Linked DNA regions of Homo sapiens. The protein of the gene in region 1 purifies or fractionates together with the protein of each later gene. This does not show direct contact. Each region holds a gene or a part of one and is shown in the gene's direction. Other genes may lie near its edges.

Region 1 (3,500 bases):
CTCTGGAGGCTGAGGCACGAGAATCACTTCAGCCTGGGAGGCGGAAGTTGCAGTGAGCCGACATCGCACAACCGTACTCCAGCCTGGGTGACAGAGCAAGACTCTGTCCCAAACAGAAACACAGCTACCCAGATAGTTTAGCTAGATACGGGTGCACAGATGAGACAGTGCGGCTCGGGGGCCTCAGGTAGGAACGGGATTGTGAGTGTCACATCTTAGAGCTGCTTGGCTCTGTAAACTTGTATGCAGTGTGTTGAGAACAATTCTATCTATCTGTGTATCTATCTACCTACCTACCTATCTATCTTCCTACTTCTTTGTCTCTCTCTATCTACCTACCTATCTGTATATCTATGTATCTACTTATCTACCTATTTATCTATTTATTTACCTACTTATCTATCTATCTATGTGTTTATTTATTTTTGAGACAGAGTCTCGTTTTGTAGCCCAGGCTGGAGTGCGGTGGTGCCATCTTGGCTCACCGCTACCTCAGCCTCCCGAGTAGCTGGGATGACAGGCACATGCCACCACGCCCACCTAATTTTTGTATTTTTAGTAGAGATGGGGTTTCACCATGTGGGCCAGGCTTGGTCTCGAACTCCTGACCTCGTGATCCACCTGCCTCAGCCTCCCGAGTAGCTGGGATGACGGGCACGTGCCACCACGCCCACCTAATTTTTGTATTTTTAGTAGAGATGGGGTTTCACCATGTTGGCCAGGCTTGGTCTCGAACTCCTGACCTCGTGATCCACCTGCCTCAGCCTCCCGAGTAGCTGGGATGATGGGCACGCGCCACTACGCCCACCTAATTTTTGTATTTTTAGTAGAGATGGGGTTTCACCATGTTGGCCAGGCTTGGTCTTGAACTCCTGACCTCGTGATCCACCTGCATCAGCCTCCCAGAATGCTGGGATTACAGGTGTGAACCACCGCGCCCAGCCAAGAACAATACTTTTTAAAACTTATTTTAGGCCAAGTGCAGTGGTTCACGCCTGTAATCCCAGCACTCTGGGATGCTGAGGTAGGCGGATCACGGGGTCAGGAGATCGAGACCATCCTGACTAACACGGTGAAACCCCATCTCTACTAAAAATACAAAAAATTAGCTGGATGTGGCTGTGGTTGCCTGTAGGCCCAGCTACTTGGGAGGCTGAGGCAGGAGAATCGCTTGACCCTGGGAGGCGGAGATTGCAGTGAGCTGAGATTCTACCACTACGCTCTGGCCTGACCGACAGAGCAAGATTCTGTCTAAAAAAGAAAAAAACAAAACAAAGAAAACTTATTTTAAGTAGAGACAGGGTCTCACTCTTTTGCCCAGGCTGGTCTTGAATTTCTGTCTTCAAGTGATCCTTCTGCCTTGGCCTCCCAAAAGGCTGAGATTATAAGCATGAACCTTCAGGCCTGGCCGAGAGAACAGTAATATTTATTTATTTATTTATGGAGTCTCGCTCTGTCGCCACCAGGCCTGGCCGAGAGAACAGTATTATTTATTTATTGATGGAGTCTCACTCTGTCGCCCAGGCTCGAGTGCAGTGGCACAATCTCGGCTCACTGCAGCCTCTGCCTCCTGGGTTCAAGTGATTCTCCTGTCTCAGCCTCCCGAGTAGCTGGGATTACAGGCTTGTGCCACCACACCCTGCTAATTTTTTTGTATTTGTATTTGTATTTGTTTTGAGAAGGAGTTTCACTCTTTGTTACCCAGGCTGGAGTGCAGTGGCACGATATCAGCTCACCACAACCTCTGCCTCCCAGGTTCAAGCGATTCTCCTGCCTCAGCCTCCCGAGTAGCTGGGATTACAGGCATGCACCACTATGCCTGGCTATTTTTGTATTTTTTAGTAGAAATGGGGTTTCTCCATGTTGGTAAGGCTGGTCTCGACCTCCCGACTTCAGGTGATCCGCCCACCCCGGCCTCCAAAGTGCTGGAATTGCAGGCATGAGTTACCACGCCCAGCTCAATTTTTTGTATTTTTTGTAGAGACGGGGTTTAACCATGTTAGCCAGGTTGGTCTTGATCTCCTGACCTTGTGATCCACCCGCGTCAGCCTCCCAAAGTGCTGGGATTACAGGCGTGAGCCACTGCACCCGGACTGAGAATAGTAATTTTTAATTATTTTATTTTTTTGAGTCGGAGTCTTGCTCTTTTGCCCAGGCTGGAGTGCAGTGCGCGATCTCGGCTCACTGCAATGTCTGCCTCCCGGGTTCAAGCGATTCTTCTGCCTCAGCCTCCCAGGTAGCTGGGATTACAGGTGTGTGCCACCATGCCCGGCTAATTTTTGTATTTTTAATAGAGATGGGGTTTCACCACGTTGGCCAGGCTGGTCTCGATCTCCTGACCTCGTGATCCACCTGCATCGGCCTCCCAAAGTGCTGGGATTACAGACATGAGCCACCGTGCCTGGCCTAGTAATTTTTTAAATGTCTCAGAACATCCACCAAGTCCAGGCTGTCCTAGAAGGACTGGATCGGAGTCAGTGGAAGGACTGGGCTTTCTGGTTCTGCTGTTCCTGAGGGTTCTGATGCTTGTTGCTGCCTGTGTGCTTCTGGACGTTGGGCTGGCAGGGCAGGATCAGAGGCTGCATAGCACCCTTGGTGGGGATGGGGCCATGGTGGGGAGAACTTGAGGGTCAGGGACCCCAGTCTCCCTTCTAGTCATCAATAGTAGAATCATGCCTCCTTGCAGGTGAGACCTTTCTGTGCTCCGTGTTGGTAACAGGAGCCTTGTTCTTTGTTTCTCAGGGCAGTTGGGTGAGAAGCAGCTTCCATCTTCAACCTCGGATGATCGGGTAAAAGACGAGTTCAGTGACCTTTCTGAGGGGTGAGAGAAGAGTGGGTTTAAACAGCCTAAAATTTCTCCTTCAAAAACCATCAGTGACCTTTCTGAGGGGTGAGAGAAGAGTGGGTTTAAACAGCCTAAAATTTCTCCTTCAAAAACCAAACAGCCATCGTAGGGTCGGCTGCCCATGCGCTGGTACCAAACTAAGCCATCACAGGGGCCGGCTGTCCGTGCCCTGGTTGGGACACGCCTCCTCTCGAGGTGGCGGGAGAGGAGGGGCTGGGGAGCTTCCGAGGCTTCTTGTCTCTGATTGATGGTTTCCTGGGTGCCAGAGAGCACTCCCAGACCTGAGGCAGCTCCAGAGGGAGCCTGATAGGGTTTCTGACCCAGAGCAGCCTAGAAATGAGTTTGTTGAAACCACTCTGGCTGGGTCCTTTGCTTCTGCTACTGTTTTAGGGCCATAGTTTTGTGTTCGCTCCAGATGTTTCTGGAGTAGAGAAACCCCGACTTTAGCCCTTGACTATGACACTGTTGTGGCTTGAAGCCGAGGCTCTGCGAGGAGGTGTTGCAGGAGGACGGGCCTCAGAAGGGACCTCATCAGTGTCTGCAAACTCCCTGGGCCACCCCTGCCTCTGAGCCAAGCGCCATTCAGGGCAGCTGTGCCAGGCTGGGGTTTGCACCGTTTCCACCCTCTCCTGTAAACCTTGGCTGCAACACAGAT
Region 2 (3,500 bases), about 43 Mb from region 1:
TCACAAATGTTAACAAAAGTAGGGGATTCTTAATTGGGTTTGTATATATTTATAAACTGACTTAAAAGTTGTGGATGTTAAGGCTTATGGTCGGTATATTTCAATACAAGAGTACAGAAAGTAGAAGAAGAGAAAGACAGTGAAGAAGGTTATATACTATGGTGTGTGTACTGCTAAAAGACGAATACACATTTTTTTCAAGCATATGTCTGGTCAAAGCAAGTGTTTTCTTAGGCTGCTTCTAGGATCCTTAGGGGATGTATTCCTGCCTGTGAGTCTTTTTTGCCATAGTTATTTCCACTGCACAAGTGGACCCCTTGTCCCTTCCTTGGGAAAGAAAGCCCATACCTGGATCAGTGGGTATGATTTCAACAATTTTTCAGATCAATCTTTTATTGGATAGTTCCTGATATAGATAGTTATTTTGTATCTTCGCCAAAGAAGGCTTACTTGTAGCTATTTAAAAATAGACCCATATTCCTTCAGGAACTAGAAGACTGAGCAATATATAATGACCATAATGTAAATAACATTGCTTGGTGTTTTGTAGTATAAAAAGTACTTTCTATTTTCTATACCATTAGTGAGTTAACGTGGTTTTGCTGAGCTTAACTCGAATGCTCTGCAAAGAAGCAGAGTGTTTCAGGCCCTGCTGCCAACATCTTACGGACAGTTTCTAATTGTATGCAAGAACATTTAACCCTAGATGTTCAGTATTGGGCCAAGCAGAATGAATCTAAAGAACCGGTTTCTGTCCAGAACCAAAATAACTCCCTTCTATTTTTCTCATTAAAAAAAATCTGTCAATTGAAGCATTTGAAGATAAAGTGATAACTGATAAGTTTAGGAAATTAGGAATCAGGGAGCTAATCTCTATGGGCATAGAAGTTCGTGGAAAAATAAGTATCTGGAATGTTATTTGGTAGTATTATTTGAGGAGGAGCCTGGTTAAATTTACACTTCATTTGGAGGGCTGAGATTTGGATCAGTGCCCAGTGAAGGTCAAATTATGAGGGATTTCATTTGTTCGTTGATTCAATGAATATTTGAGTGCCAGGTCCTTAGTCAAGGATGGGGTATGTCTGGTGCATGAGACACACCATCATCAGGGAGCTGTCAGTCTAAAGGTGGGAGATGAGCCTTGATGAAATAATCACGCACAGATGTCTGCATGATTGGAAATAGCAGTGAGTGCTGTGATGAATTACAGAGTGTCCTAAAATTAGGTCAAGTTGCTGTTCTAGGGTTATTTACTGGAATAATGACATTTGAACTTGGGTTAGCTGTGTGAAAGGGGAGGCAGGGGTGGGGAAGGGAAAAGATTTGGGAGCTCAGTGTGTTTAAGGAGCTGAAAGGCCAGCATGGCTGGAACACAGACAGTGCTGAGAGAGACCTAGGAAATGAGATTAGAGAGGCTGGCAGGGGCCAGACAGTGCGGGGATTTGTTAGCTGGTTAGTCATTTTTGTCTTTAAGAGCAGTGGGAAGCCACTGAAGGATTTTTATTCTTGGGTGAATATGACTAGTTTTGTGTTTTGTGTTTTTGTTTTTTTGGAAACACGGTATTATTCTGTTGCCTAGGCTGGAGTACAGTGGTGCAATCATGTGATTCAATGCAGGCTCGAACTGTGGGGCTCAAGGCATCCTCTTGCCTCAGCCTCTGGATCAGCTGGGATTATAGGCATGTGCCACCACTAGCCAGCTAGTTTTTTAACAACATTTTTCTGTAGAGATGGGGGTCTCGTTGTGTTGCCCAAGCTGGTCTCGAACTCCTGGGCTCAAGCAGTCCTCCCACCTCAGTCCCCTAAAGTGCTGCTTTGTGTTTTCAGGGGTTCATTGTGGCTTCTGTGTAGAAAACAAATGGTGGGAGATGGAATTGGTAGACCAGTTAAGACGCAAGAGAGAGGACTAGAGTGGGGATATAGAGAGGACGGATGGAGGCTTACTGAGAAAGTACAATGGCTGGACTTGGTGGTCGAGTGGATATCAGAGATGAGAAGATGTAAGTGAGGTGAGAGAAGTCAAGGCTGACTTCCACATTTCTGGCTTGAAAGAATCAACACTGCGGGAGGTACAGAAGGGAATGATGTGTAAATGCTTGGCATGGTACTGGTGAGGATGATATTGGAGCCGAGTCATGGAATAGAACTATAAGCTTACCAGGTGGAAAAGGTGGAAGGCACTTCTGGCAGCTTGACTAACAAGTTACATGGAGGTTTGAAAGAGCTTGTGAAATTGAGAGTTTAGGTACAACGGCTCTGAGGCAGGAGAGGCGCAATAGGGCCAGATTATGAATCTATTTATAGTACCACGTTCAGGACTTCTTTTTGAGGGCTAAAAGGGAGCCAGCAGAGGTTTTTTCAATCGAGTAGAGGCATGCTTAAGTTCATTACAACAACAACAACAACAACAACAAAAGACTCCACTAGAGGGTGAAGGGACTAACAGCCCAATCTACAATAATTAGGAGATGGCTGGTTTCATTTTCAGTGCTTCCTTTTCACAGCAGAACTTCTTGAAAGAGTTATATATAATCACAGTCTATACTTCCTGGTGTCTCAGTAACTCTTCTACCCTGACCTCATCTCTGAAATTATGCTCAAAGACTTCCATGTTCTTGTATTCAGTCAACGTTTCACTGATCTCATCCTGCCTCTGATCTCATCTTGCTTAACGTCTTGACATTCTAGGTATTTGATCATTCCCATCTTCTTCACACCCTCTCCTCTCAGCTTCTGGGACACCACTGTTCAGCTGGTGTCTTACTGGCTTGCTTTCTCAGTCATCTTGGCCAGCTTTTCCTCTCATGCTCAAACTTTAGAATGTCAGAGTTACCCAGGGATCAGTCCTAGGCCATCTACTGTTTTTTCCCTAATCAACCTTGGAACCACTTTGGAATCACCTGAGGAATTTCTTTATAAAAGTATTCCAACCAATACATGAAGAAAGTGATAGAATATCAGTATTTTGTAACCACTAATGAAATAAAGGTTCTAGACAGTGAACATCGATGACTGCTGCAACCATTAGGGAAAGAGAACTTTATAGAGGGTGGATCAGGTTGACAACCTGTATCTGTTGATCAATCTGAACCTCACAAAAAGACATGGCCAGGCATTGTAATAAAGTCCTCAGTTACTGTTGTTGGTAGGTTCTTAGAAACTGTGATGTTAATGAAACCAATTTTACCATAGGCTGACTGATATAAACAAAAGTTAAAGTTTCTACAGCATATTTCTGGTCATGAAAACATCATCAAACTTCTAAATAAAGACCCCAAACAATTCTAATCTTAAACATTGAAATAAATGTGAACTATATATACATTAAGAAATATTAATGCAAACAAGATAATTATTGACCCAATTTCCAATTTTTGGTGAAACAGTGAGTGACAGTGGTCATTGTGGTGACGAGTAAATCAAGGAATAAATGTTTGCAAAGCGGAAATTATAAGGAGCACCTCCTGCCATCACCCACTTCAAAACAATGACAAACATAG
Region 3 (3,500 bases), on another chromosome or scaffold:
AAACATGCTGACTACCCATATACCTTTCACTTACTTTTGGCATTGATAACATTTTGCCACATTTGCTTTCTGTATTTATTAATATACAACTTTTACATATATATGTAGTAAGTTGCAGAAATCATGATACTTCACCATTAAATACTTAACTGTGCATTTCAAATGAGGATTCTTGTAAGTGTATATCTAAATATAAGATCAGATTTGCTTTTTGTAAATAATCATGGTGAGTGTTTTACAATGGTGCTTGATTAATTTTTGTCAGATTAGGTTTTCAGTAAAGTCATTGTTGGAAAAGTTTTCAGACTTAACGATACAGTAGTATATTCAGTGCTGACATGATGGACAGTTTTAGAAAGGTGGATATATGGATAATTTTCTCTCTCTGTTATGTTTTTTCAGTGGCCAGTATTTAGTTTACTAAGTTGTGGCTGAAAGTACATTACGTACTCTAACAAAATTACATCCACTAATGTATATATTTTTACCAGAAACAAATGTACCCCTGAGTTATGGAGGGGGTGAAAAGTCATATGATTCACAAAGTCGCTGTGGCAACACCAAAACAGATGACCTAGAAATGATTGTGGTTTTAAGAAAGCACCCATTGCAAGCTCATTTTTAACTCTCATCTTTCCTCCTTTTTTTTTTAATATAATACTGCTGTGACCACTTAATGTTAGGTAGATACAAAAAAGTTTTACCTTATTTTTAAAATAATGAATTATCTGAATAGATTTGAATCATTGGCTAAAACTGTTGTTAATTTTAACATTGGGTAATGAACAGAATGCTATCATTATATATTTTTTAAAATTTTTTCTAAGTGAATTGCCTTCAAGTTTATATTTAGTTGGAAACATGCACCTAATTCAGGATTTATGTATGTATGTATGTATGTATTTATTTAGAGACAGAGTCTGGCTCTGTTGCCCAGGCTGGAGTGTAGTGGCATGATCTCCGCTCACTGCAACCTCTGCCTCCCGGGTTCAAGCGATTCTCCTGCCTCAACCTCCCAAGTAGCTGGGATTACAGGCACCTGCCACCACGCCCGATTAATTTTTGTGTTTTTAGTAGAGACAGGGTTTCATTCACCATGTTGGCCAGGCTGGTCTCAAACTCCTGATCTCAGGTGATCGGCCCGCCTTGGCCTCCCAAAGTGCTGGGATTACAGGCGTGAGGCACTGTGCCGGGCCATGATTTATTTGTTTTAAATGAAGTGTCTGGCTACTTTACCCAGGGTATACTGAAGAGTATGCGTTTCTTAGAAAATAGCTCAAGGGGTATAGACGCATGAAAAGGTGGAAAACATGTTTTCCATTTAACTCCTAAGGTTTTCTTGTTATTTTGGTTTTATTTTAATAGTACTGACAAATACTACCTTGATTAGAAAGTTTGAACTATAATTCCATTTACCAGGGCTAATTTCTCCATCATTACAAAGTTTATTGTAGCTGACATTACTTTTATGTTATATTTAATCAATTTATCCTAAATTAAAAAAAAATTCAGAGTCATTGAGAGCATCAGCTCACTCATCAGTAGGCCTTTCTTGAGAGTAACTCTTTGACAATTGTCTTCAGTGATACAAAGGTTTTTGACAACAACTTTTATGATTGCTTTTAGGCCTTTTCTCTCGTGACCCTTTCTTAGTAGTTGAGAGTGTTGCCTTAAAGTCAAGATTTGTTAACTTTTTGGCCATTATTTGAATTTAAGATGGTAAATATCATCTGATTTTGTCTGATAAGGAATCATATGGGGTTTTAAAAGGCAATGGGTGTTAAATGCACTGACTTTTAATAGGTAATAAAATATTTTTAAGCTTTATGTCAGTGTGACAGTCGTGTTTTTCCAAAGTAAATTTATTTAAATAAGTATTTGGAGAATAACGTTGGACTTTTTGAAACTCAGGTTTCTCTTAAGTTTTTTGAAGTTGTTTTTATTCATTTTTAGAATGGATATAAGTTCAGATTTATTTCTCTACCATTAAATAGTCATTGTATAATTTTAGATGAGTTTCTTTAGTCACACCCTGAGGTTTTGAATATTGTAGACCACTAAACAGCACGTTTCTTAGTAACACACCTAATAGATTTTTCTTCTTATTTTAGTGGGTTTTAAAAAAAATTTGTGGGTACATAATAGGTGTCTATATTTATGGGGTACATGGGATGTTTTGGTACAGGCATGTAATGTGAAATAATCATATCATGAAGAATTAGGTATTCATCCCCTCAAGCATTTATCCTTTGAGTTACAAACATTCCAATTACATTATTTAAGTTATTTTAAAATATACAATTAAGTTATTATTGACTATAGTCACCCTATTGTGCTATCAAATAGTAGGTCTTATTCTATTTTTTTGTACCCATTAACCATCCCCACCTCCCACTCAACCCCCCATTACCCTTCCCAGCCTCTGGTAACCATCCTTCTGTTATGTCCATGAATTCAGTTGATTTGATGTTCAGATCCCACAAGTAAGTGAGAACATGTGATGTTTGTTTTTCTGTGCCTGCCTTATTTCGGTTAACATAATGATCTCCAATTCTATCCCTGTTGTTGCAAATGACTGGGTCTGTTTTTTTATGGCTGACGAGTACTCCATTGTGTGTATGTACCACATTTTCATTATCCATTCATCTGTTGATGGACACTTAGGTTGCCTCCAAATGTTAGCTATTGTAAACAGTGCTGCAACAAACATAGGAGTGCAGATCTCTTCGATACACTGATTTCCTTTATTTTGGATATATACCCAGCAGTGGAATTGCTCGATCATATGGTAGCTCTATTTTTAGTTTTTTGGGGGACCTCCAAACTGTTCTCCGTAGTGGTTGTACATTCCCACCAATGGTGAACAAGGGTTCCCTTTTCTTTACATCCTCACCAGCATTTGTTACTGCCTGACTTTTGGATAAAAGGCATTTTAACTGGGACAAGATGATATCTCATTGAGTTTTGGATATCTGATGATTAGTGATGTTGAGAACCTTTTCACCATTTGTGTGTCTTCTTTTGAGGAATGTCTATTCAGATCTTTTGCCCATTTTTTATCAGATTATTAGGTTTTTTCCTGTAGAGTTGTTTGAGCTCCTTATATTCTGGTTATTAGTCCCCTGTCAGAGGGGTAGTTTGCAAATGTTTTCTCTCGTTCTGTGGGTTGTCTCTTCACTTTGTTGATTACTTCCTTTGCTGTGCAGAAGCTTTTTAACTTGATGTGATCCCATTTGTCCATGTTTGCTTTGGTTGCCTGTGCTTGTGGGCTATTGCTCAAGAAATATTTGCTCAGACTAATGTCCTGGAGATTTTCCCCAGTGTTTTCTTGTATTAGATTCAGTTTGAAGTATTTAATGCATTTTGATTTGAATTTTGTATATGGCAAGAGATAGGGGTCTGGTTTCATGATTTTGCATGTGTTTATCCAGTTTCCCAGCACCATTTATTAAAGAGACTTGTCTTTTCCCAGTGTATGTTCTTGGCACCTTTGTCAAAAA

What was found. The genes of interacting proteins can lie anywhere in the genome.
Region 2: the proteins of ZNF276 (region 1) and SHCBP1 purify together in Homo sapiens (affinity purification with mass spectrometry; one large-scale study listed by BioGRID and IntAct). This does not show direct contact.
Region 3: the proteins of ZNF276 (region 1) and ANKRD28 purify together in Homo sapiens (affinity purification with mass spectrometry; one large-scale study listed by BioGRID and IntAct). This does not show direct contact.

The regions. Positions count from the first base shown.
Region 1 is NC_000016.10:89,724,537-89,728,036, forward strand, and holds part of ZNF276 (zinc finger protein 276), read left to right. Parts: intron 1-2,742; coding exon 2,743-2,821; exon of another isoform or gene 2,822-2,890; intron 2,891-3,500. UniProt on the Homo sapiens protein: May be involved in transcriptional regulation.
Region 2 is NC_000016.10:46,611,380-46,614,879, reverse strand, and holds part of SHCBP1 (SHC SH2 domain-binding protein 1), read left to right. Parts: intron 1-3,500. UniProt on the Homo sapiens protein: May play a role in signaling pathways governing cellular proliferation, cell growth and differentiation. May be a component of a novel signaling pathway downstream of Shc. Acts as a positive regulator of FGF signaling in neural progenitor cells.
Region 3 is NC_000003.12:15,791,480-15,794,979, reverse strand, and holds part of ANKRD28 (serine/threonine-protein phosphatase 6 regulatory ankyrin repeat subunit A), read left to right. Parts: intron 1-3,500. UniProt on the Homo sapiens protein: Regulatory subunit of protein phosphatase 6 (PP6) that may be involved in the recognition of phosphoprotein substrates. Involved in the PP6-mediated dephosphorylation of NFKBIE opposing its degradation in response to TNF-alpha.